Linked DNA regions of Homo sapiens. The protein of the gene in region 1 purifies or fractionates together with the protein of each later gene. This does not show direct contact. Each region holds a gene or a part of one and is shown in the gene's direction. Other genes may lie near its edges.

Evidence for each region.
Region 2: the proteins of SINHCAF (region 1) and SAP30L purify together in Homo sapiens (affinity purification with mass spectrometry; 4 studies listed by BioGRID and IntAct, with this or other methods). This does not show direct contact.
Region 3: the proteins of SINHCAF (region 1) and SAP30 purify together in Homo sapiens (affinity purification with mass spectrometry; 5 studies listed by BioGRID and IntAct, with this or other methods). This does not show direct contact.
Region 4: the proteins of SINHCAF (region 1) and RBBP7 purify together in Homo sapiens (affinity purification with mass spectrometry; 5 studies listed by BioGRID and IntAct, with this or other methods). This does not show direct contact.

Annotation. Positions count from the first base shown.
Region 1 is NC_000012.12:31,288,143-31,295,178, reverse strand, and holds part of SINHCAF (SIN3-HDAC complex-associated factor), read left to right. Parts: intron 1-1,247; coding exon 1,248-1,374; intron 1,375-7,036. UniProt on the Homo sapiens protein: Subunit of the Sin3 deacetylase complex (Sin3/HDAC), this subunit is important for the repression of genes encoding components of the TGF-beta signaling pathway.
Region 2 is NC_000005.10:154,448,986-154,456,021, forward strand, and holds part of SAP30L (histone deacetylase complex subunit SAP30L), read left to right. Parts: intron 1-2,105; coding exon 2,106-2,228; intron 2,229-3,470; coding exon of another isoform or gene 3,471-3,488; exon of another isoform or gene 3,489-3,514; intron 3,515-4,416; coding exon 4,417-4,515; intron 4,516-6,914; coding exon 6,915-7,036.
Region 3 is NC_000004.12:173,373,918-173,378,032, forward strand, and holds the end of SAP30 (histone deacetylase complex subunit SAP30), read left to right. Parts: intron 1-21; coding exon 22-120; intron 121-3,287; coding exon 3,288-3,410; 3' UTR 3,411-3,615; downstream 3,616-4,115. UniProt on the Homo sapiens protein: Involved in the functional recruitment of the Sin3-histone deacetylase complex (HDAC) to a specific subset of N-CoR corepressor complexes. Capable of transcription repression by N-CoR.
Region 4 is NC_000023.11:16,853,361-16,860,396, reverse strand, and holds part of RBBP7 (histone-binding protein RBBP7), read left to right. Parts: intron 1-1,547; coding exon 1,548-1,721; intron 1,722-2,687; coding exon 2,688-2,803; intron 2,804-6,554; coding exon 6,555-6,715; intron 6,716-7,036. UniProt on the Homo sapiens protein: Core histone-binding subunit that may target chromatin remodeling factors, histone acetyltransferases and histone deacetylases to their histone substrates in a manner that is regulated by nucleosomal DNA.

The DNA of each region.
Region 1 (7,036 bases):
TAATTTCCCCCTAATTTAGGAAGTAATATATCCCTAGGGTAGAAAAGTCTGAAAAGAATAAAGAAAAACACTAGCTGCTGTTCAGATATAATGGCCTAACATTTTGGCATCTTTAGAACAGAATAGCCTGGTGTGGCATTTCCTTAAGGCTGTATCCAATATCCCCCTTCTGGAGATTCACAGTAAGCATTCACCTGTTTTTAGGCTTAACTCAGTAATTCCCAGAGTTAATTAGACATGAATTCTTTTTCTTAAATCTCTTTGGATAACATGATCCTTTGAACTCAGGTTGGTACTAATGAACATGTAGATCAGACTTGAATTTGAATTTTGCCTTTACCACTTACTAGTTGTGGATTTTGGGCAGGTTATATTTATTCATGAAGTGCAAAGATAATAGCTCTCTTACAGAGCTATTGTGAGAACTGGATGAGATGGTGTATAGAAAGTATAACACAGTTATCGTTCACACTAGCCTTACATTGTCCTTTGATGACAGTGTTATGTTATTATAATAGGTCATGATTTTGAAGATGATAACAACCTTCCTTTTTACATGGGGTAGAAATCTGCAGCTAATAAATGTGAATGAATACCTAAGAAACAGGACCATATGGGGCGAGATCAATGGCTGGGCTAGACTGTGGGAGAACATGCTATTGCTGTCGTGTAACTCACCTCAGAGATTAAGGTGTAAAGTGAAAAAAGCATAAAGAATAGGCCTGAAGACCTTGATTCCAATCTTCTCCCCTCTCCACCCCTCTTACCCATTTACTCGCTTGGTGAAATAAGGCAAAATGCATAATTTATCTTTGCCTTGTTTTCCTTCTGTCTAAAATTGGAGTAACAAAAGTAGCTCTATTTTTTGCTTTGTACTAAATATAAAAAGTATATGAAAGCTTTTCGTAAACTGCAAAACATTATCCTGTAGAAATGGAGTTGTTTTTAGGTTTGATTCTTAACCTAGCTGGGTCATCCAGTAATGATTATCCCATATACAAATCTATTTAAATTTTTTTCCAATAGACTCCCACTATTACCCACTTCACAGGAAAGAATATCTTTAAAAACCCCAGTAGATAAATATTATTTATTCCCTTATGTCATGTGATGATTAAAGGTGCACATGGAGCTTCATCCTCTTTTCAGTATAAAACTGTGGTTCTCAAATAGGCACGGATCTGAACCAAAGGGATACACTGGTGTCATTTTAAAAATATTATTAAATATTCAGTATTTTCTTCCAGGTGGTAGATGCAAGGGCTGGACCCAGTCTAAAGACTACATTGAAACCAAAGAAAGTGAAAACTCTATCTGGGAACAGGATAAAAAGCAACCAGATCAGTAAACTGCAGAAGGAATTTAAACGTCATAGTAAGTTTGATATTACAACATTAGTACTTAATAATTGTTTTGTTATTTTTGGCTGGGGGTGGTGTATGGCATGTGTGGATCATTTTTTCCTTTATTGCTTTTTATAAAGAGCACTGGAAGGCAACGTTGACTTGGTAGAGATGTTATCTTATTTCTGTGAAATGTTGGCACTTTTTCTGATTTTGATGTCTCAAGAGAGTATTTCTACTAGCTAACCACTTCAGATTGTACTGAGACCACCCTGATGTCTTTATTGACATCTTAATTTTCTAGAAGGTGCATTTCTAGCTCATTTACTTGATTTTTATCCATAAGGAAATTGAGTCCTGCAGATGTGCAAGAAGGTACGTAAAGGGGACAATCTGAGACCAAAGTCCAGATTTTCTGGAAAGTAACTTTAGAAATCATAACGCACATATTGAAATTCAGCCAACCTCAGGGCTTGCTTTCAGGTTTAAGGGGCAGTGTGTGTTGTGTGATAGAATGAGAAAGGAATGTCTAATTAATTAATGTCAGGTCACATGCTATTATTGGAAGTTTTGGGGGGTTGCTGTAATGGCACATCTGTATTTTGGAATTGAGATTTTAGATTTTGAAAAGGAAATACACTGCATATAATGTTATTGTCTAATAAATATCTCTATTACCCTTGGGGTTTGAAGGAGCATTATTGAACCAAACACATTAGTATTTTTACAGCAAAAAGTAGCAGTATTCACATTTAGTGGAATAAATAGATGGTACATAGGCTAGTCAGGTTTGTCTGCTTATAGTCATAGTTTAGGTCATGCCAGATTTTGTGGCCAAATAGGTTAGGAATATACTTTCTGTTTCCAGAGCTTTCTCAGAATTGCGGCTAGGGGTTGTGGATCTCTATTGGAGCTCTCAGTACTTTTAAAAAATCTATAGGGCCCTGTTAGAGAGAACATTATCAATCAAGACATGGTTATCATGCTTGTTTTAGAATAATGGAAAAAGACATCTAAGTTTAGTGACGGTAAAGTGAGGAGTGCAGGAGAACTCAACATTTTTTGAGCATTTTGGTATACTAAGCACTTTACATATGTAATCTCAGTTATTTCCATCTTAGAGCTCAGAATAGGAGGCACAAAGAGGTGATTTAAACTTGATCTGGGCCACTTAATAAGTGGTAGAGATGTAAAATATTTAGGAAATATAAATTTGTATATGTATTTTAATTATACACTTACCTTTCCTAACCAGCTCTCAACCCCCCATCTCCCTAAAGATTTAACTCTACCTTCCATTCTCACTAGATATTTTCTTTTATTTCTTTTTTTTTTTTGAAACAGGGTCTCGCTCTGTCACCCAGGCTGGAGTACAGTGGTGTGATCTTGGGTCACTGCAGCCTCTGCCTCTGGGGTACAAGCAATTCTTGTGCCTCAGCCTCCTGAGTAGCTGGGACTACAGACATGCACCACCATGCCTGGCTAATTTTTGTATTTTTAGTAGAGTTTGGGTTTTGCCATGTTGCCCACGCTGGTCTCAAACTGAGCTCAAGCAATCCACCCACCTCGGCTTCCCAAAAGTGCTGGGATTACAAGTGTGAACCATCACACCCAGTCCTCACTAGATGTTTTAATGAACATTTGGGAAACATTAATTTTCTTTTATCACTTGAAGGCCGAGGAACTGATTATTCATATGTATATTCTTAGCCCTTTCCCTTAATTATAGAGAAAGTGATATCTCACTTTTGTCTTACTTAAGGGAATATTCAGTGTAATTTTAGATTTTTATTATGAAACTGTGCTGTGTAGTAGTTAGAGACTGAAAATAAATTCCTTTGATAATAAGGTGTGTAGATTGTGGAGGCTCAGACTGAAACAGGGTGTTCACCAGGTACAGTATAAATTGCTGGCACCTTTGTGCATTGAAGCAGTTGGGAAACATGTGAATTTTTATATATCACCCACTAAATGGTCTGTGCTTCTGGTTATGTGTTTGCTTCTGTGTATCCTGCACATACCAGGCCTGTATTCTCTTCTTTCTTTCTTTTTTTTTTTTTCTGAGATGGAGTCAAACTTGCTCTGTCAACCAGGCTGGAGTGCAGTGCAGTGGCACGGATCTCAGCTCACTGCAACCTCCCCCTACTGGGTTCAAGCGATTCTCCTGCCTCAGCCTCCCGAGTAGCTGGGATTACAGGTGCATGCCACCACACCCAGCTAATTTTTGTATTTTTAGTAGAGACAGAGTTTCGCCATGTTGGCCAGGCTGGTCTTGAACTCCTGACCTCAGGTGATCTGCCCTCCTTGGCCTCCCAAAGTCCTGGGATTTCAGGCGTGAGCCACCGTGCCCAGCCCTGTATTCCCTTTTCAAGACATTTTGTGGTGTACTGAAAAGGCATTGGACCTAGAGTTACAGATCTGGATTTGAATATCAGCTCTTGTCACTAGCAAATGTGTAACTCTGGAGTCACTTGACGTTTAACCATAATTTTCTAATCAGAGAACTGGGGATAATCAAGTAAAAAATGGCTTTGTAAAACAAAATAAATTCGTCTATAAATGTTAGCTATTCTTTTTGTGTCATCCTTTTCAAAATCTGCAGTGATTTCTGCTTACTATAAAATATGGTTGAGAATTCCTAGAAAGTGTTTGAAGGTCCTATTTTTGTTTGAGCTGAGTCAGTTCCTGGAGTGTTTTTGGCTTCCACAGCTTTGCTCATTGACTTTGCCCATTGTCCCTACCGACTTGATGCCATCTAATCACTCCTTGGTGCCTTCTAAATCCTACGTAATTTTTAAGACTTAAAATTGCAGTTTGGGCTGGGCATGGAGGCTTACACCTCTAATCCCAGCACTTTGGGAGGCCGAGGCAGGTGGATCACCTGAGGTTGGGAGTTTGAGACCAGCCTGACCAACATGGAGAAACCCCGTGTCTACTAAAAATACAATATTAGCTGGGCGTGGTGGTGCATGCCTGTAATCCCAGCTACTTGGGAGGCAGAGGCAAGAAAATTGCTTGAACCTGGGAGGCAGAGGTTGTGGTGAGCCGAGATTGTGCTATTGCACTCCAGCCTGGGCAACAAGAGCAAAACTCCGTCTCCGAAAACAAAAACAAAACAAAACAAAAATGGTCAGATAATTGAAATTTCAAATAGTTTAAAGATATTAAGCACTTCCTAGGAGAGTGAGTTTTCCTCAGCAGCATAGAGGTGTCTGTTGATGTTAATTATTTAGGAAGTCTTAAACATCCCACTAGACTCATTTTTTTAAAACCTGCTACTCTTGAGGATTTTGTTTGCTAAGTTAACATATTAAAAATACTAACGGGGCTTTCTTTTAGATACCTAATTTTATGCTGTTTTATGTAAATATTTGTAAATATAAAATATTTGTGAGCTCTATTCAGAAAACGTTTTCTTGACTGGGTGTGGTGGCTCACACCTGTAATCCCAGCACTTTGGGAGGCCAGGAGTTCAAGACCAGCCTGGCAAACATGGCGAAATCCTGTCTACTAAAAATATAAAAAAATTAGTTGGGTGTGGTAGTGCACACCTGTAGTTGTAGCTACTCGAGAGGCTGAGGCATGAAAATCCAAGAGGTTGGAGGCTGCAGTGAGCTGAGATCCAGCCACTGCACTCCAGCCTGGGCGACAGAGTGAGACTCTGTTTTAAACAAACAAACAAACAAACAAACAAAAACAAAAACATTTTCTTGGCTAGGTGTGACCATGCCTGTAATTGCAGCACTTTGGGAGGCCGAGGTGGGAGGATCGCTTGAGGCTAGGAGCTCCAGACCAGTCTGGGCAAATAACGAGACCTTGTCTCTGCTAAAAATTAAAAAAATAACCAGCCGAGTGTGGTGGTGTGTGCCTGTGGTCCCAGCTACTCAGGAGACTGAGACGGGAGGATTGCTTGAGCTCAGGAGGTTGAGACTGCAGTGAGCTGTGGTCATGCCACTGCACTTCAGCCTGGGTGACAGAGTGAGATCCGGTCTCAAGGAAAACCAAAAGATAAAAATAATTAAAAAAAAAAAAAAACCCAAATTTTCTTTAGTCTGTTTCTTTCCATGCAGCATGTAACATAGGATTTGATGCCTTATAAATATTTAATAAGTACTTGATTGGTTATCTGAATGGAAGGATTGCTCTGTCAACGTGTCCTGGGATGGGCAAGGTGTATGGTAGGCCCCACCTGTGTTTATGAGGTTTATGATACTGCTCTTGCTGTGACGTGGCAGTACAACAGCCTTATAGCACAATGACTGTTAACTAAGAAACTTATTTTCTGGCTTGTACATTTATCTGACATCTTCACATAAACAGGCAAAGTATTAAATCAGGGTTAGCTCTGCATCTAATGAACTGCCTTTATTCCTTATTAAATCAGGATCTTTTGTTTTCTCTTTATAGGTATAATGTCATTATTCTTTGGCTGCTTTCAAGATTTTTCTCTTGGTTTAGTTTATAGAGGCTTAATTATGACGTGTTTTGGCATGGATTTCTTTGGGTTTATTCTGTTGGGCTTTGGTTAGCTTCTTGAGTCTTAGGTTTATGTCTCGCCAAATTTCACAAGTTTTCAGCCACTATATTTGAGTACTTTTTCACCTCTATTCTCTTTTTCCTCTCCCTCCAGGACTGCAATGACATGAATGTAGATGTATGTTTGACTAAGCTCCACAGGTTTCTCCTGCTCTGTTCATTTGTTTTCTGTGTCGTTCATATGGGGCAATTTCTGTTGTTCTTTCTTCCAGTTCACTGTTTGTTTTCTCTCTCCCCTCCATGTTGCTCAGCCCATCCACTGTGGTTTTTATTTTCTTTATTGTATTTTTTTCAGTTACAAATTTTCCATTTATTTTTTCCTTATAGTTTTCTATCTTATTTTTACTGAGGCTTCCTATTTCTTTGCCAAGCCTATGTTTTCATTTATTTCAAACATGTTCATAATTGCTCACTGAAGCATTTTTGTCGTGGCTGCTTTAAAATCTTGGTCAGATAATTCTAATGTCTTTGTCATCTTAGTGTTGGCCTTTTCATTTAGTTTGAGATCTTCCTGATTCTTGGACTGATGTAATTTTTTATTGAAACCTGGACATTTTCAGATTATGTTGTGAGACTCTGGGTCTTATTTAACCCTTCTATTTTAACTGGCTTTTTTGACACCCCTCAGGGCAGGGAAAGAGGGAGGGGCCTCACCACCCTATTACTTACCGCCAGGTGTTAGAATTCCAGTTTCTCTCTCAACCTCCATTGACATCTGAGGTTGGGGGGAGGGGGAGGCTCCTTGTTACTACTGGATGTCAGGAGAGAGTTCAGGCTACCACCTGGTGAGGGTGGCCTTGTACTTAGTGGGCCATAATGAAAATCCTGACTTCGCTAGGCTTCCTCTGACACCACCCTGGTATAGGTGTTGGGGTGCTTCCTAAGTCTTGTGAGGGTGGAAATGTAGGCTCTTCACCTCAGCCTCTGCTGGGGTTAGGAAAGGTGTCCACAGTTTTTTCCGTGGGTTTGGCTGGAACAGGAAGGTTAGTGTTCAGAAATGTTTTCTGTCTGGCTAGGCTGCCCTTTTCCTAGTTCTTTGCTAGAGAGATCAGGTTTTAATTGGGGTTTTGGATTTTTGTTTTGTTGTTGTTGTTTTGATTGTCTGTACACATTGGCATTTCTGGGTGGCTGCTGTTTCACTTCCAAAGCTGGGGATT
Region 2 (7,036 bases), on another chromosome or scaffold:
AAACTAGAGCCTTTGCTACCACCCTCCTGCCCCAACCCCACTCCCAAAGGCCACTGAGCTCTGAAATTTCTGAAAACCAGTATGTACTTGAAAATGGTTAAGGAGAAAATGATTATTTATCTTGTAAGAGAGTCTAGCAGAGAACCTTTTTAAATAACAACACCAGAAATTCAATTCAGGCTGTTTAACTCATTTTATATAGACTTTGGCAGTGTTCTGTGATCTGTTAAAATACTAATATACCTCCAGTTGACATATTTCTGCTTTTTTTTTCCTGGAGAAAAGTGGAAGTTGAGAATAGTATAAAGGAAAATGCTGGAGTAGGAAAAGACATGTACTGGGGGGGCAGAAGGCCTGGGTGACCTTGGCCAGGTCATTTCCTCACTCTGGATGGCTTCATTTTACCCATTTAGAAAACGGATTGGGGTCAATGGGATTGCACTAGTGATTGCTAAGTTCTCTTACAGCTAGGATTCCGTTATTCTATTGTCCTGATCTGAAATCTCCCAGCCAAAGCTTTAGGAAGCCACCTATTCTCCCTGTTCTCCTATGAAGTTTGTTACTGTGAACTTGAGGAGCAGTTGATCTGAGTGGACTCGCCAGTCTAGCTAACATGGAGGGCTAGCTTCCTCTCAGGGATGCAGAGTGTGCTTTGTTGTGCTTTCTTCCTGGAGAAAAGCATGTCCAGTAGTATATACATCAGCTAGGTGGGATTCTTTGGGACAGTGGCATGTGCTGTGTTTGAAAGTCCTTTGACAGAGTTGAATCTGACAAAGCTATCCCAGTTTGTAACCATGTTAAGTGGTGGCTTTCATTAGCCTTAAGCCACTTTTAGATATAGGAGACTTCCTATATTGGTACATCAACATTTTTCGAGTACCTCCTGTCTGCAAGACACCATCACAGTATAAACTTAAAAGTACTTATGACTCACTAATCCAGCCACATGAAAGTGATCATTCATCTGAATAAATAAATAAACAGTTTTCATTATTTTCTCCATGAAAAGGTCTGAATTAATTGATGCGGATTTCCTGCCAGCTTACTTTTATCTTTAAGGATTTAAGGAATAAACTCAAATTCAGAAGTCTCTGCAGAACATTTGTGCAACAGCTGTTTCAGTATCAACAACCCCAAGTCATTTGCTGGGCATTCAGTTTCTGTAAAGTTTTTCAGTGGTTCCTCCAGCCAGCCTTGGAGGATTCTTCATGTCTTAGCTGTTGCTGCCACCTTCACTTACCAGTGTGCCTCCAGCCTGTATTAGAAAATCTGTAGTATCCACCTTCTTGTATGTGGTTCTACCTTGTAAGAACTTCCACATCTTTTTCCACTTTTCTTTGTGGATCAGATGTGAGATAATGCAAGAATTATAAATTGACACATAGAAACAAAGTTTTTCAAAGAGTTATTATCCTACAATAGTAGCTATTGTAATTGTAAAAATAGAGTGTCCCAAATACCGTTGCAACAGTCCCTTGTGTCCTGCTTTCCTCCTCCCCAGGACAGTACATTCCAGTCGACTATAAGTTTATGACTCCTACAGGTCTTCTAAAAATGTCACATCACTTCCTGCTTCCTTGAGGGACTCTGTCTTGTCGGAAGGAAAGTCTAAGCTGTTCTCATGCCCACCCCCCTGATGCCTCACTTTTTCATTATGCTCCTACATGGGCAGCCATCATCACCCAACTGACACTGTACCCTGGGCCTCCTCACTCTTTCTGTCATCCTCCATTGGAAACTCTAAAGTCTTGGCACTCCTACCCATCTGGAATGCTTCCTGTCTGCCTAAAGTCCTCCCTTTTAGTCAGGGCCCTTCACCCTGAGCATCTCTGTTGCAGGGATCTCTTCCTTTGCTGAATCTGTACCATTTACTGTCTTCACCATTCACTGGAAGTTTGGTGTATGATACGCTGCCAAGTGTGATGTTAGCATTCTCTTTGTGTTCTGCAACTCAGTAGTGAGCTTCTGGGAATGATGGCCTACATCTTGTCTTCCATCTATCTCTCCAATGCCCTGCAATGGAAGGAAGCCCCGCAATTCGACAGATACCTATTGCTGTCTCCAAGGAATTGGCCAACTCTGACTTTGATTTTTGTCTCCATCAGGTAAGGCACCTATATATCTGTGATTTTCACAAAAATTTCATCCAGAGTGTCCGAAATAAAAGGAAGAGGAAGACAAGTGACGATGGCGGAGATTCTCCCGAGCACGACACTGACATTCCTGAGGTAAAGGTCAAAGAAACCAGTTGCGGAAGCTGGAAGAATGGATTCTAATCTGATTCTCACCTCTGGCCTGGTCTGCTTTTTGTGTTAAGAAGTAATTTTAGTCCTTTTGTTTTGCTGTGGATTATTTGAAAAGTGAATTATAGTAATATGGAATCTGAGAGCTAAAAGCTTGGACACCCACTGGTCAGACTGCCCCATCATTTTACAGACAGGCACAGAGAGCCGAGGTCATGTATATAGTTTGGAGGCTCTAGTCTAGGGCCCTTTCCAGTAGACCACACTGCTTTTCTGCAAGACGCCCCTGACGAATGCGTAAATACAACCACAGTGTCACTTTTTTTTAAACCTTGTTTATGCCTTTAGAGAGTGTATAATGGTTTGGGAGAAGTCTTTTCCCCAAAAAATGAAGGTGTAAGTCATCAGTTCATACCAGCTCTGATTTTCTCTCACTGATTTCTTGACATCTAGTCCAGGCTGTTCCCAAGGATCCATTTCAAAGTTGACTAAACTGGACCCGGTTTTCTCAACTCTAGCACTGTTGACATTTGGGGTCAGCTAATTTTTGTTGTGGGGACTGTCCTCTGCATTGTAGGATATTTAACAGCATGCCTCAGCAGCATCCCCTCGTGAGATTCTACCCATCACCACCCTGAGTCATGACAATCAAAACGTGTCTCCAGACATTGCCACACCTCCTTTACAAGACAAAATCGTCCTGTGTTGAGAACCACTGCGCTAGACCATGAGACCTAGGCTTCTCAAACTGGAAGGCTGCCTTCCCTTCAGGTGCCCGTGTCTATTAAGTGAGGCTTCAGGAAGGAATATTGGATTTTCTTTCTACTAAATTGTTTTCACTCAAGACTCAGCAAGAGAAGAACCGTTTATAGTGTACATTGAATATTTGACACATGAATATTTCATAAGGCAACCGCCTGTTAGCACTCAGAGTGAAAATGACTGTGTAGGAATAGAAAGAGTAGGCGGGCCTTTGTCTGCAGATGTGGAGGAAACCGTTGAAAATCTGGCCCTTTCCCTCTGCCCCTCCCTGTGTCCCCTTTTCCAATGTTGGTTTACAGAATCTTGCTTTTGCCTTTAACGTTATTGTTATTTTACAAAGAAATGGACGTATTCGATTTCTAAGTGGTTTTCACCAAAAAAAAAAAAAAAAAGGTTTTGAGGAATGTTTTGAAAAAGAATGAAGGACTTTGGCCCCTCATATTGATCATTCATTTTGTTTTTAAGTGCTCTCCACCTGCCTGAAGCAAGAACAGCTCTTTTAGAGGCAGGTAAAGGCAGCCCAACTTTATGGGCCTTCAATTTTTCATGACTATGCAGCTTTCCTCTCTTCCTTTGTTAGAAACAAAAAGGGGGGGTCCCTTCCCCTCTGTTATCCAGTCATCTGCAAAGACCCCAGCCCTAACCTGCTGGATTGCACATTCACTACAGTAACTTTTGAACTTTCTCTGGAGGGAGGTTAAGGATTCTAATACCAGAAGGCTGGGCCTAGCAAAGAGCTATTTGAGGATAACAGCCCTCCTTTGTGCTCCTCTATCCGGTCGCTGCCTCGTTCTGGCCTATCATCCTCCAGGATGTCTCTGGTTTTTGCCTTTGCTCTCCATCTTTGGTGTCCCTTCTAGCATCACTGCCCCTCCAAAGCTCAGCCTCTTCATCTCATTCTGATTGTTGCTATAGCATCTCCCTCCGTATCCCCCCATCAGTCTTCCCAACAACCACCACCAGACCCATCCTGCGCCATCGCCCTCCACCCTCTGTGATAGCTCCTTCTGTTTTTCTGGATGTGCTACCATCCATTCTCACCTTTTAAATTCATCACAGTTGCCTGTGACCCCCTTGCCCATCTGTGCCTCTCCCAGCTCTCTGTGCTGTGATCTTTTCCCCTATTCCCTACCGTTTCTCAGTGCTTTATCAGACCCTGCTCCTCCTTAGCTTAAGCTTTACCTTTTCCACCAGTTTTGTGAGATCAGCCCACCCCAGCCAGAACTGTTTTTCTACTGTTATTTTTGCCCTCCTAGCCAGTTACTAGTCCTCAATAGACCATTTCTAAGACCTCTTTTGAAGCCCTCCCCATCCTCACCCCTACCTTAGTGTAGTGCTAGGCACATAGTGGGCTCTTGGTGAGTCCTGGGTGGTCAGGTGATGGATAACATTTTTCTCCTCTTCTCCCTAGGTTGATCTGTTCCAGCTGCAGGTGAACACCCTACGACGTTATAAACGACACTACAAGTTGCAGACCAGACCAGGCTTCAATAAGGCCCAGTTAGCAGAAGTAGGTAGACAAAATTGCCCTCTAAAGAGAGCCAGCATTGTGCTGCTTCTGATGGTTACCCTGATTCTCCCTTACCTTGTGTGTCTGCTAATTGTAATTTCCTCCAGAGTTCTGGAAGCAACTCTGTATTCCTCTTTGGCAATTTAGAACCCCACAGCTTTAGACCTGCAAAGGCCTCAGTTCCAGAAAAGAAACCATGGCACAGAAAGAGGAAAGGATTTGCTTAAAATCACACAGCAAGTTGATAGCAGAATTGAGCCTGGGATCTCATGACTCCAGATTCTAAGTCCTGAGTGTTCATTTGTTTGAATCTTTTTTGGAAGATTCCTCTTTTTGTTTTTTTGGAGACAAGATTTTGCTTTATCACCCAGGCTAGAGTGCAGTGGCTCAGTCTGGGCTGACTGCAGCCCCAACCTCCCAGCTTCAAGTGATCCTTCCCACCTCAGCCTCCAGAGTAGCTAGGACCACAGGTGCACACCCCTATGCACAGCTAATTTTATTTTTATAGAGATGCAGCCTCACTATGTTGCTCAAGTGATTCTCTTTGGCTCAAGCCATCCTTCCACCTCAGCCTCCCAAAGTGCTGAGATTACAGGCGTGAGCCACTGTGCCTGGCTTAGCAAAATGCTTTTTAGATATGATCATTTTGTGTGTCAGATTAATCATTTCAAAACCTTGATGTTCTACAGGAGCTATTTTTTTTTCCTTGATTTCTCCTACTCTGGTGTTGGTAATGACAGTATTTTAATGAATGGCACCCAAGAAAGTTTTCTCCTGCCCTGAGTTATTAACACAGTTTGGATTACGGGGAAATGCTCCACTGGCCATTTTTAAAATACATGAACTGCCTGGCTTGATAATTCTGTCTTTGTCATTTCTGCAGGTATTTTCTAATCCCTCTTTTCTTAATATATTTTTCTGCCTATTACAGAAAAGTTGGAAAATGGAGAAAAGAAAAATATAATTCTATCATCCAGAGATAACCACTCTTTATGTCTAGTTCTCTGTCTTTTTTTATCTGTTTCAGCCACCTTGATCCATTGAGATTTCCTGAAAGGCTTCCAGCCTGTTTCATTTTTGGTTTTTCCTTTAGAGGTTTCTTGCTCGACCGTCACTTTTTCTTAAACAACTCCTTCACCAGTGTCCAGATGACACACAGGAGGTCAGAAGCCTCTCCTACTTTAAAATAACATCACCCATTTGCCAGTGTTCTCCCTGGTGGAAGGGAAAGAATGAGGTGGGGCAAGAGGAGACCTGCATTCTCATTACTTATGGAATGAAGTATTAGGAGCATTAGTAAATGATGCATTTTCCTTCAAACCTGATATGTCTTTCAGGAGGCAGTTATGCACTACTTAGAAGAATTTTGGGGTTCAGATGCCTCTGTTCAATTTGTTCAATTGGCTGTTCATTTAACACAATTTTTTTTTTTTTTTAAAGACAGAGTCTTGCTCTATCTCCCAGGCTGGAGTGCATTGCTATGATCTCAGCTCACCACAGCCTCCACCTCCCGGGTTCAAGTGATTCTTCTCCATGTTTCCCGAGTGGCTGGGATTACAGGTGCCTGTCACCACACCCGGCTAATCTTTGTATTTTTAGTAGAGGCTGGGTTTCACCATGTTGGCCAGGCTGGTCTCGGACTCCTGACTTCAGGTGATCTGCCTGCCTTGGCCTCCCAAAGTGCTAGGATTACAGGTGTGAGCCACCATCCCCAGCCTAACCCAATTTTTATTTGTTTTTGAGACAAGGTCTTGCTCTGTCTCCTAGGCTGGGGTGCAGTCACAGCTCACTGCAGCTTCAACCTCCTGGGCTCAAGTGATCCTCCCACCTCAGCCTCCTGAGTAGCTGGGACCACAGGTGCATGCTACGACACCTGGCTAATTTTTTGGTAGAGATGAGTTCTCCACTGTGTTGCCTAGGCTGGTCTCGAACTCCTGGCCTCAACTAATCCTCCCACCTTAACCTCCCAAAGCATTGGGATTATAGGTGTGAGCCACCACGCCTGCCCCACAATTTTTTAAAGACACATTTCTTCCCACTTTCAAGGCCTGAGAGGTTTGGTAGCAGCTGGCCAACCAGAGCAGTCCCAGTCTCTCCTCCATGAGTATGACTGTGAAATCATGCCATGACAGGTGGTTGGCTGCCACTGAAATAGAACTGCACCTTGGAAGAGTTGTAGGTTAAAAAGCCACTTTTGGATCCTGGAAATTAAACCACCTACATCCCTGGGGAGGAAGGGCAAAGGGCACTCTGAGTTCCGCACATGGCAGGAAGTTCTTCAGCATTTGTCATTCCCGCCACAGCATGCAAACAACTCCATTCGCTTCTTTGTACAATGTAGAATTTGCGGTGTGATTTGTGCATGGTTTAAGGAACTTTGGTATTTTCCCCCCACATAGACTGTGAGTCGACACTTCAGGAACATACCTGTGAATGAAAAAGAGACCCTTGCCTACTTCATCTACATGGTGAAGAGTAACAAGAGTAGACTGGACCAGAAATCGGAGGGTGGCAAGCAGCT
Region 3 (4,115 bases), on another chromosome or scaffold:
ATACATGTTAATTTTTTCTAGGTTGATTTATACCAATTACAAGTAAATACACTTAGGAGATACAAAAGACACTTCAAGCTACCAACCAGACCAGGACTTAATAAAGCACAACTTGTTGAGGTATATATGAGTTTTAAACTATTTGAACTATCTGCACAACCGAGAGGTTATTAAGTGCTAATGGAAGTTTTAATGTAGTGTATGTAACAGTACATTTTAATTAGAAAGAACAAAGTTAAAAAATCTGTTGTGGAAGAATCTAGTTGTGTAGAAATGTTTGTCTGCCACTTAGGAAATTCCTTTTTGTAATGACTGCTTAGTAGATTGTGTACAGCACCTTCTGATACTGGCTTTCAAAATGTGTTGATTGTTTTTTGAGACAGAATCTCACTCTGTCACCCAGGCTGGAGTGCAGTGGCATGATCTTGGCTCATTGAAACCTCTACCTACCAGGTTCAAGCAATTCTCCAGCCTCAGCCTCCCAAGTACCTGGGACTTCAGGTGTGCACCACCACACCAGGCTAATTTTTGTATAATATTTTTAGTAGAGATAGGGTTTCACCATGTTGGCCAGACTTGTTTCAAACTCCTGACTTCAAGTGATCTGCCCACCTCAGCCTACCAGAGTGCTGGGATTACCAGTGTGAGCCACCGTGCCTGGCCCTCAAAATGTTGAATGAGAGTTTTTTTAATCCTCACTTTAGAAATCTATTAATTTTAAAACTCCGTTTAACCAGTAAACATTTGAGCACCTAATTGAGGCATAATAAAATTAATTAACAAGCTTTAATGTCCTTATTAGAATTTATATTTTAAAGTGGTGGAATAGGCCTACAAATCAGACCCTAAACAGTATTTTTATAATTTGCTGACTTAACTATTTCAAAATTTGTCCTTGTTGATGTTTGTTTTATTAGAGACATCCATGTTTTTTTCACATCTAGAAGAGGCAAAAGCTTTTCTTTTACCCAAGCTTTTACTTGTAGTTTGCTTTGATAGAGGACTTCTAGTCAGTCACTGAGTTGTGAAAAGTTAACGGAGCATGCATATGTTTTCAGGATATAATAGAACCAAGAAATCTGTGCATCTTATTAAGATGTTTATAGATTTATATATATATATTTTAATCATATTTAAAATAAAAATTTTTACTTGCAGCTACTGAGGAGGATTGATTAAGCCTAGGAGTTTGAGTCACCATGGGCAACATAGCAACACTCCATCTCTAAAAAAAGAAAATTTGGCCTACTAGACAAAATAGAAGTGTAGAAATATAAATCAGTTTTCTCATATTCTTTGCATGGATTTAGTAGTTACCCAACATTTTCTAAAATGTGCCTATTGAATAAAATGAAATATGAATAGAAGTTACATTTATTTGGCAGAATGCTTTTTAACATTGTTAAAATCTAATATATTAACTATTTAGCTAAAATTTTTTATCCTTGGTTGGGCAACACAGATCTAATTAATTTTTCTTTAATTTTGATTTAAAAGATCAAGTTCTTTTGGGGTTGTACAATACATTAATGTAACATAAATATAGTTATTGCCCACCATGATGAAATATTTCAATAGGTACTAATGGAGTGAAGGCACCCCTGTTTTGGGACAAATGAGAACCAAAGAACTGATTATTTTAAATGTTATATTTAGGTATAAATTAAACCTGTAATTTTTGATAAACTGACCTTCTAAGAACAGTTATATTATTTCCAGAGCTATTTTCTTTTTTATACATAAGAGATAGCCATGAGTGTTATATTTTACTTAATCAGAAATGCAGATATTAGCAAGTTAAGGAATGTGCAGATGTAGTACATATATTTTAAGAGAGGGGTCCCCAACCCCAGGGCCATGGACTGGTACTGGTTGGTGGCCTGTTAGGAACGGGTCCGCAGAGCAGGAGGTGAGCACCAGCTAGCAAGCATTACTGCCTGAGCTCCGCCTCCTGTCAGATCAGCCACAGAATTAGATTCTCAGAGGAGTCCAAACCCTCTTGTGAAGTGCACATGTGAGGGATCTAGATTGTATGCTTGTTATAAGAATCTAATGCCTGATGATCTGAGGTGGAACAATTTCATACCAAAACCAACTCCGCCACCCTCAATCTGTGCAAAAATTGCCTTCCGTGAAATCTATCTCTGGTGCCAAAAAGGTTGGGGACCACTGTTTTAAGGGAATCCAGGGTTGTATGACTAAGTCTTAAGTCTCTTAATTATTGTGTGGATGAACTTTTTTCTTAAGAAATTTTATTTTCTGGAATCTAAATATGCATGTCAGCACCCCAGGTAAGTCTATTATTCTTCTATTAGTAATTGTAGTATGCATGTTATGTTAGCACAATGAAAAAGCAAGGAAGCAGGTAAACATCCTTCATTGAACATCCCTCTTTCTCCTCTCATTTCCATTCATAATTTTTATTCAGAAAAATTTTCAAGGAACCTTAACCAAAGAATGCTACCAAGGTGTGAATGAATGAATATAATTTGCAGCAAACAATTTATATGTTATTGTTGGTTTCTCTACTAGCAAAAGTTTTCAACTTCATACTTCTTTTTCTATCAGTAGAGTCTAAACCATTGCAGGTTTAATGATGCATGTGATCTCTTACGTCTGTTTTATCTCATTTAAAGTTTAAAAGTAAAATCATTTATTCCCTATTCTAGATTCTAATTATAAAATTTATTATTTTTATTTTATTTATTTATCTTTTTTTGAGACAGAGTCTTGCTCTGTTGCCCAGGCTGAAGTCCAGTGGCATGATCTCAGCTCACTGCAACCTCCACCTTCTGGGTTCAAGCAATCCTCCTGTCTAAGCCTTCTGAGTAGCTAGGATTACAGGTGTACACCACCAGGCCTATCTAATTTTTGTATTTTTTTTGGTAGAGATGGGGTTTCGTCATGTTGCTCAGGCTGGTCTCAAACTCCTGGGCTCAAGTGATCCACCCACCTCTGCCTCCCAAAGTGCTGGGATTACAGGCATGAGCCACCACGCCTGGCCCAATTATAAAATTTAAAATAAATAAAAGGAAAATATATTTTCTAATCAATGTATATTAAATTGAGTGGGTCAAAGGGTCCTTTGAAATCACACTATCTCTTGTTCGTAACATTTTATTCTTGAATGCTTTCTGTCTTGTTGATATTTTGTTAAATATAATTTTTAAAGGAAATAGCCCTTATCACATAGCACTTTTTCTTTTGATGAAACCGTATTTTTTACGTAGTTTATGAAACCTGTTATATCTAAAATTTAATTTCCTTAATTTTTCTTTTCTTTGTAGATAGTTGGTTGCCACTTTAGGTCTATTCCAGTGAATGAAAAAGACACCTTAACATATTTCATCTACTCAGTGAAGAATGACAAGAACAAATCAGATCTCAAGGTTGATAGTGGTGTTCACTAGGAGACGTGGAATTGAGACTAATAACTTGGATGTTAACACTGTTTACTGTTTTTTCACATGTAGAAATGTTCTTTGTGTATTTTTTCTACAGAGGATTTTCTCTGATTTTATTTTCTTTGTTTCTGACTCTAATAATTAGTTGGAAACTCATATAAAATGAGCTTTCCTAAATTAAATCTATTTTAAATAAAGGTTATTACTATTATAGTTGCTTCAGTGTATTTATTTTGTGAAACTTGATTTTTCTTTTAAACTGACTAAGAGATCAGTATTGAGATTTTAATGTAAAGTCCTTCATTTTGTAATCCTTTTTTTTTTTTTTTTTTAAACTTCCAAGAAATTAACAGGGTAAGGAGAAGTAACAAATGTAGCACATTTGCATTCTCTGGGACAATCTGACTTGGAAGTGAAGATAATCTAAATAGCATTATTTTTTAAAGTGCTTTATAGGGCTAGCAAATTTGAAAAATAAACTTCTCTTGGAATGCAACTTCTTTTTTATTTCCTTTTTTTTGTTATTATTACTTGATGAAGTACTAGGAAGAACAAATGGTTTAATTTATATACCCACCTCCTTCCAAAGAAGACTTAATGTGCCAGCAAAGATAAACACAATGCTGAAAGTTGAAATAAGAGTATAAAATTAAATAGCTGTTTTTCAAAATTTTGTCTTCGAGAAAAGATATTTATGTGGCATGAATATAG
Region 4 (7,036 bases), on another chromosome or scaffold:
TACATTTTTTAATGGATATTATCATTAAGACAGTGACTTTTCAAAATTTTAAGTTTGAGAAAACAAAACTCTGTGTTCAAAGTAAATCCTACTTGGAAGCCCCGCCCCCCCCCCTTTTTTTTTTAAAGGAGAGCTCTTCAGGTTGTTTTAGCTAAAGGAATCAGGAAACTTGAGTATCTTTGTAGCAGAAGGGTTAGAGCCACTGGAGTCCATGGAATGGGATGTTGAAGGTCAAAGTGGAGCAGATTTGGAGCAGTCTCAGGAGGGAGGAGACGATTGGATCAGGAGGGGTCTTAGCATGCCGAGGCACATTTCTTCCATTGACACCATGGAACAGAAGGTGCTACGAGGAAAAAGGATCCTTTTGCATGTGGTCACATGAGAGTAGTGGGTAGAGGAGCTTTGGAGTAATCGTGGATTTGAGATACGGTTTTTTCAACCACACTGAAATAGTAAGCTATGTTTGCTTCAGAGAGGAACGGCTAGATACTGATATTAAGACATGGAAGCGAGTGTTCATTAAGCATTCCACATAGAAGGAGCTGCCTGGAACTGAGAAATGGTTTGCTCCTTTTGGTGGTTGCTCCAGGCCCCGGTCTATTTTACTTCTTACCTGTCTGGCTCCAGTAGGCATTTGTGTTAGTTGTCCCTGACCTGAGACACAGGGTGAGCTAAAATGGAATGTGCAAAGAAAAGGCAATATAGGTCAGGAAGAATAACACAATTGTAATGTGAACCCTCCTATCTTTTTAAGCGTCAGCAACTAATTCAGGTTTTTTTATCTATGAGCACAAAAAAGAATGTTCTTGTTTGCTGTATTTGCTTAGATGTTCTCTACTTGTATTCTTTCTGCTAACATGTTGCTACTTCTTGGAAGTTACCGTACTTTTTATATGACTTTGTTACTTTACAAGGCCTTTTTCATGATTATTTAATACTATAGTCTTATTCACACACCAGATGGGCGGAGAGGTTAACCTTGGCACTGCACTAGCAGTTAAACCAAGTATGCTGGCAGGGCCAATGTATGTGTGTTTAGGGACAGGTAGGGGTTAGCGTGGGTTTCTGATTGATTTGAGGATGCTTCTGACTTCAGACTCAAAGGGTGTTCATACTGTGGAGGGTTAAAACCTTTCCTGTTTTGATGAATCCTAAAATAAGATGCTAATTCAGTGCAGTACTTACAGTGAGTTGTATTTGAACTAAAAAGCTATTGGTCTGCTTATTATATGGTTACTTGAAATTTCAGTGAATAACTATATCATCTTCATAACTGAAAGAGGACAGTTGTTTTAGATCCAAGGTGGAACTGAATTAAGTTGCATAAGGCAGCTACCAATATTTTCCAGTGCAAATGGGCTTTAAGAATAAATTGATGTGGCAAATGAACCCACATTTTTGGGTTTTCTCTATGCATGTTTCTGTCTTTGTCTTGTCAGTTTGTGTTGTATTCTGCCAGGTCAAAATCTGTTAGGTTGATTGAACTAAGTGATTTGTGAATTTTAATCCTGAGTGTGTGTGTGTGTGTTTCTTTCTCCTCACATTAGAATTTGGTGGCTTTGGTTCTGTAACAGGAAAAATTGAATGTGAAATTAAAATCAATCACGAAGGAGAAGTAAACCGTGCTCGTTACATGCCGCAGAATCCTCACATCATTGCTACAAAAACACCATCTTCTGATGTGTTGGTTTTTGACTATACAAAACACCCTGCTAAACCAGGTATGTAATAATAGAGTTAGGTCATTACTTGAGCAGTTTTCTTGATTCAAACTGGTAATGTTTTTAAGGTCAAAGTAGCATACTTTATAATATTTAAAGGTTTAAAAATTGCTTTGGGGGTCCCATAACCATCCTCAAGTTCAGGGATTTGCCAGAACTACCTAAAAGCAGCTTATACTAACAGCTAAAGTTTATTACAGCAAAGAATCCAGAGCAAGAGTAGGAAGAAAAAGATACACATCAGGGGAAGTCCAGAGGGGTTAGCTACAGGCGTCTGAGTCCTTCCCATCCAGGGCCACGTGGGACATGTTTTGTCTCTAGCAGCAAACCATAGGAACATGTGCTAAATGTCTCTACCCAGGGCAGCCCATTTGAGTTTCAGAATCTGGGATTTTTGTGGAGGTCTGTTGGCGTGGGCACATCCTGTTCTATGACCAGCCATGGTAACAAAATTGAGGACCCCAATAGTGAAGCCAAATACATTGTGAATCTTGCTAAACAATCCTACAAGTCTTGACAGGTCCCTATGGCATACCCCACTGCTCTGGGCTTACAAAACTTTATCAGTCAGTGACGTGAAGAACTTTCTGAGGGTCACATTCCCAGGGGTTGGCCAAGGGTCATTTATGGTTGCAGGCTACCCTAGAGGCATGCAAGGACTGAGCAACCAGACCTGTTGTGTTAGAAATATTTCTAAAAAATTGGGGGGTTGCGGGGATACGGTCACCACTGCCCAAATTTGTAGGATAGCTATAGTTTTTAATATTTTTGTGTTGGGGATAGTATTAGGTTTTCCAAAGAAACCAATCATCTAATGGTCATGAGGCTCAATTTGCATTGGGTATTAAAGACCAGATCTCGTTCGTGTGCAGTTGCTGTAATGGTTCACTCAATGAAGGAGTGAGAATTTATTCTCACCAGTTCTGATAAACAGAGAATAACTTAATGTTTTTCATCTTTTCTTAGACCCAAGTGGAGAATGTAATCCTGATCTCAGATTAAGAGGTCACCAGAAGGAAGGCTATGGTCTCTCCTGGAATTCAAATTTGAGTGGACATCTCCTAAGTGCATCTGATGACCATGTGAGAAACGTATTCTTTGTAATTTGTTCATATAGTGAGAGCTGACGTGTCACAGCTGTGCTGAAGGAGTACTATATAGATGAAAGGTTTTCTAAGATAATACTGCTGATTATTGTGGTAACATTCCCCCAGGACTTTAGAGAGATGGTTTTCATACTGCCCTGTATGAGTCTTCGGATTCCACAGAGCTCTTTTGAAGTAGCCTTAGAATGGAGGGAGCATAGGCAAAAGGCCTCCCATTATTTAAAAGAGGACCCTCCAGGCCCTTAAAATGGAAACTGTAGAGTGTTTGTGGGACCTGATTAATATAAAGTATTTTTTAAGTGTACAGTTCAGTGGGTTTTAGTATATTCACAAAGGTGCACAACTATTGCCACTAATTCTAGAATGTTTTCATTCGCTCTCTGAAAGAGAAATTCCATACCCATTAAGCAGTGACTCCCCACTCATTCCCTGCCTTCCCCCAGCTCCTGGTAAGCACTAATTTATTTTCTGTCTCTATAGAGTTATCTGTTCTTGGTATTTCATGTAAATGGAATCTCATATATGGCCTTTTCTGTTTGGCTTCTTTCACTTAGCATAATGTTTTCAAGTAACATTACTTATGTTCCATTCCTTTTTATGGATGAACAATATTCCACTGTATGGATATACCACAGTTAGCTTATTTGTCAGTTGATGAACCATTTGAGTTCTTTCTACTTTGGGGCTATTTTGAATTATGTTACAAGCATTTGTTTACAAGTTTTTGTGTAGATGTATGTTTTTATTTCTCTTGGATATATACCTAGGAGTGGAATTATTGGATCATATGGTATCTCTGTTTAATTTTTTGAAGAATTACCAAACTGTTTTCCAAAGTGGCTTTCCATTTTACATTTCCACAAGCAATGTACAAATGTTCCAGTTTCTCTACATCCTCACTAATGCTTGTCTTTTTTATTATAGCTATCCTAGTGTGCATAAAGTGGTATTTCCTGGGTTTTTTTTTGTTTGTTTTTGGCTTGGGGGTGGGGAGTTGGTTTTTGTTGTTGTTGTTGTTGTTGTTGTTTTGTTTGTTTTTTGAGACGGAGTCTGTCTCTGTCACCCAGGCTGGAGTATAGTGGCACGATCTCAGCTCACTGCAACCTCCACCTCTCAGGTCCAAGCGATTCTCCTGCCTTAGCCTCCCAAGTAGCTGAGATTACAGCCATGCACCATGAAACCCAGCTAATTTTCGTACTTTTAGTAGAGACAGGGTTTCACCATGTTGGCCATGCTGGTCTTGAGCTCCTGGGCTCAAGCAATCCTCCTGCCTTGGCCTCCCAAAGTGCTGGGATTACAGGCATGAGTCACTACGCCCAGCTCATTGTGGTTTTAATTTGCATTTCCCTGATGACTAATGATGATGAGCATCTTTTCTTGTACTTACTGGCCATTTGCATATCTCCTTTAGAGAAATAGGTATTCAAATTCTTTGTCCATATTTTAATTTTGTCTTTTTATTGTCAAGTTATAAGAGTTTCTTATGTATTCTAGGTATAAGTCCCTATGATTTTCAAAAATTTTCTCCCATTCTGTTGTCTTTTCACTTTTTTTTTTTTTTTTTTTTTTTTTTTGAGACAAGGTCTTGCTCTGTCACCCAGGCTGAAGTGCAGTGGCTCAGTCTCGGCTCACTGCACCCTCCACCTTTCCAGCTCTAGTGGTTCTCTACCTCAGCCTGTCAAGTAGGTGGGACTACAGGCGCCCACCACCACACCCAGCAAATTTTTGTATTCTTTGTAGAGATGGAGTTTTGCCGTATTGCCCAAACTGGTCTTGAACTCCCGGGCTCAAGTGATCCACCTTCCTTGGCCTCCCAAAGAGCTGGGATTATAGGCTCTCTGAAAGGATGCTTCCCTCAAAGTGTGTATGAGACGGTTTCCCAAGTAGGGAAAGTGGATAAGTGGATTGTACTCAGTAACCCAATTACTAGTACCTTTTGAAGAGACCAGGCTGGGAATTGGTAGTAATAATAATAGCTGACATTTACCAGGGGCTACCCACATGCCAAGCATCATGCTAATCTTGCCAGGTCCTTCTGAGTCAGTGTGAATGGCAGGAGCACCACATGTTCCTTTCTCTTCAGTTCACACACATTGAGTGTCTTCATGTGTAAGTAACAACAGAGACTGAGGGCATATGTATTGTGTAAAAAAAAATTTTGTTACTGGGAAAATAGCCATTACTGGGAAATAGCTTTGTTACAGAAAGTCCTTCATGTGGCTGGGCACAGTGGCTCACGCCTGGAATCCCAGCACTTTGGGAGGCCAAGGTGGGTGGGTCACCTGAAGTCAGGAGTACAAGACCAGCCTGGCCAACGTGGTGAAACTCCGTCTCTACTAAAAATACAAAAAAATTAGCTGGGCTTGGTGGCATACACCTGTAATCCCATCTACTCGGGAGGCTGAGGGAGGAGAATTGCTTGAACCCGGGAGGCGGAGGTTGTAGTGCGCCAAAATTGTGCCCTTGCATTCCAGCCTAGGCAAGAGAGTGAGACTCCGTCTCAAAAAAAAAAAAAAGGTGATTTAATAAAAACAGATGAAGCCCTTTCATGATCACGTGCTATGAATTAAAAAAAAAAAAAAAACCCATACCAGTGTCGGTGGAACTATAATTAGTGCTAATATACCTTCATGGTATTATTTCTTATTAACTATTGAATGAGAATCGTTGCCCTATACCTTGCAATATTTTTTCATTAAAACTTTCCTCTTAACTCTTTCTGTGATAGGATGTCAAGGCCCACATCATGAGGCCTCCTTATTTGTGGGCTGCTGTGACCTTTGAGGCCCAAGCAGAGGCCCCATGGCCTCTGCTTGGGCTCTGCTGACGTTTCAAGGAGCACATCATTGGGGATCTGTCTGTGGGCGCCAGGCCTTGACCTCTCAGAGTAGACTAGTAGAGGTTTCTGGCCCAGTGTCGTTTACCTGTCCCATCTCCTGATGTCTGTGGTGGTTTCTGCCATGAAGTGAAAGACTTGTCCATGAGGCTTTTGCTATGTGAGAGGCAGAGTTTAATTTTAATTCCCAGTCTTCCCATCCCAGTGTAAACTTTTAGGATGTGCATTTGTGTTCAGTAGATGCTGAGCGCCGGGCTCTTGGTGATTTGTTGTGTTGTCTAAGTGAATTTGGGGTACTTGAATGTCTGAATGTATGTAGGTAGAAATTCCAGCATCAGTGTCCTTGCCTGCCACTGTACTCAGTCTCCCCTCCCCCTCATTACAGTGGAGTGTCCTTTTCCTCTGCACCTCACATGGAGGCTGCAGCCACATACTCTTCTGTTTGCTTATATTTTCTCTCTTGTGTTTACCTCAAACTTATATAGTTGAATAGTTTTGTTTGTAATGAAATTATTTTAAATAAGATGTTAGCATTTAAATTCAATCTCTTGACCGGGCACAGTGGCTCACACCTGTAGTCCCAGCACTTTGGGAGGCCAAGGCAGGCGGATCACTTGAGGCCAGGAGTTCAAGACCAGCCTGGCCAATATGGTGAGACCCCCGTCTCTACTAAAAATACAAAAAAAATGAGCCAGGCATGGTGGCTTGCACCTGTAATCCCAGCTCAGGAGGCTGAGGCAGGAGAATCGCTTGAGCCCTGGAGGCGGAGGCTGCAGTGAGCCGAGATCGCACCAGCCTGGGTGACAGACTGAGACACTGTCTCGAGGGAAAAAAAAAAAAATCAGTCTCTTATAGCCCTTGTTCTTTTTTTTTTCTCTCCTTCTCTCTTAGACTGTTTGTCTGTGGGATATAAACGCAGGACCAAAAGAAGGCAAAATTGTGGATGCTAAAGCCATCTTTACTGGCCACTCAGCTGTTGTAGAGGATGTGGCCTGGCACCTGCTGCACGAGTCATTGTTTGGATCTGTTGCTGATGATCAGAAACTTATGATGTAAGGTGGAAAATTCAGTGGGATCTTGTTAAATGGGTGACCTGAATGACCATCAGTGATTGCTGCAGGCTGTAGTTTGATTTTTTTTTTTTAAGTTATGGCTTTAAAAAACAGCTTTAGGTAGCTTACTCCTGTAATCTCAATACCTTGGGAAGCTGAGGCAGGAGGATTGCTTGAGACCAGGAGTGTGAGACTCTACACAAAATTTAAAAACAAAAAATTAGTTGGGTATGGTGGTGTGCACCTGTAGTCCTAGCTACTCAGGAGGCTGAAGTGGGAGGATCACTTATTATTTAGAAAAAAAGAAAACTAGGTATGGAC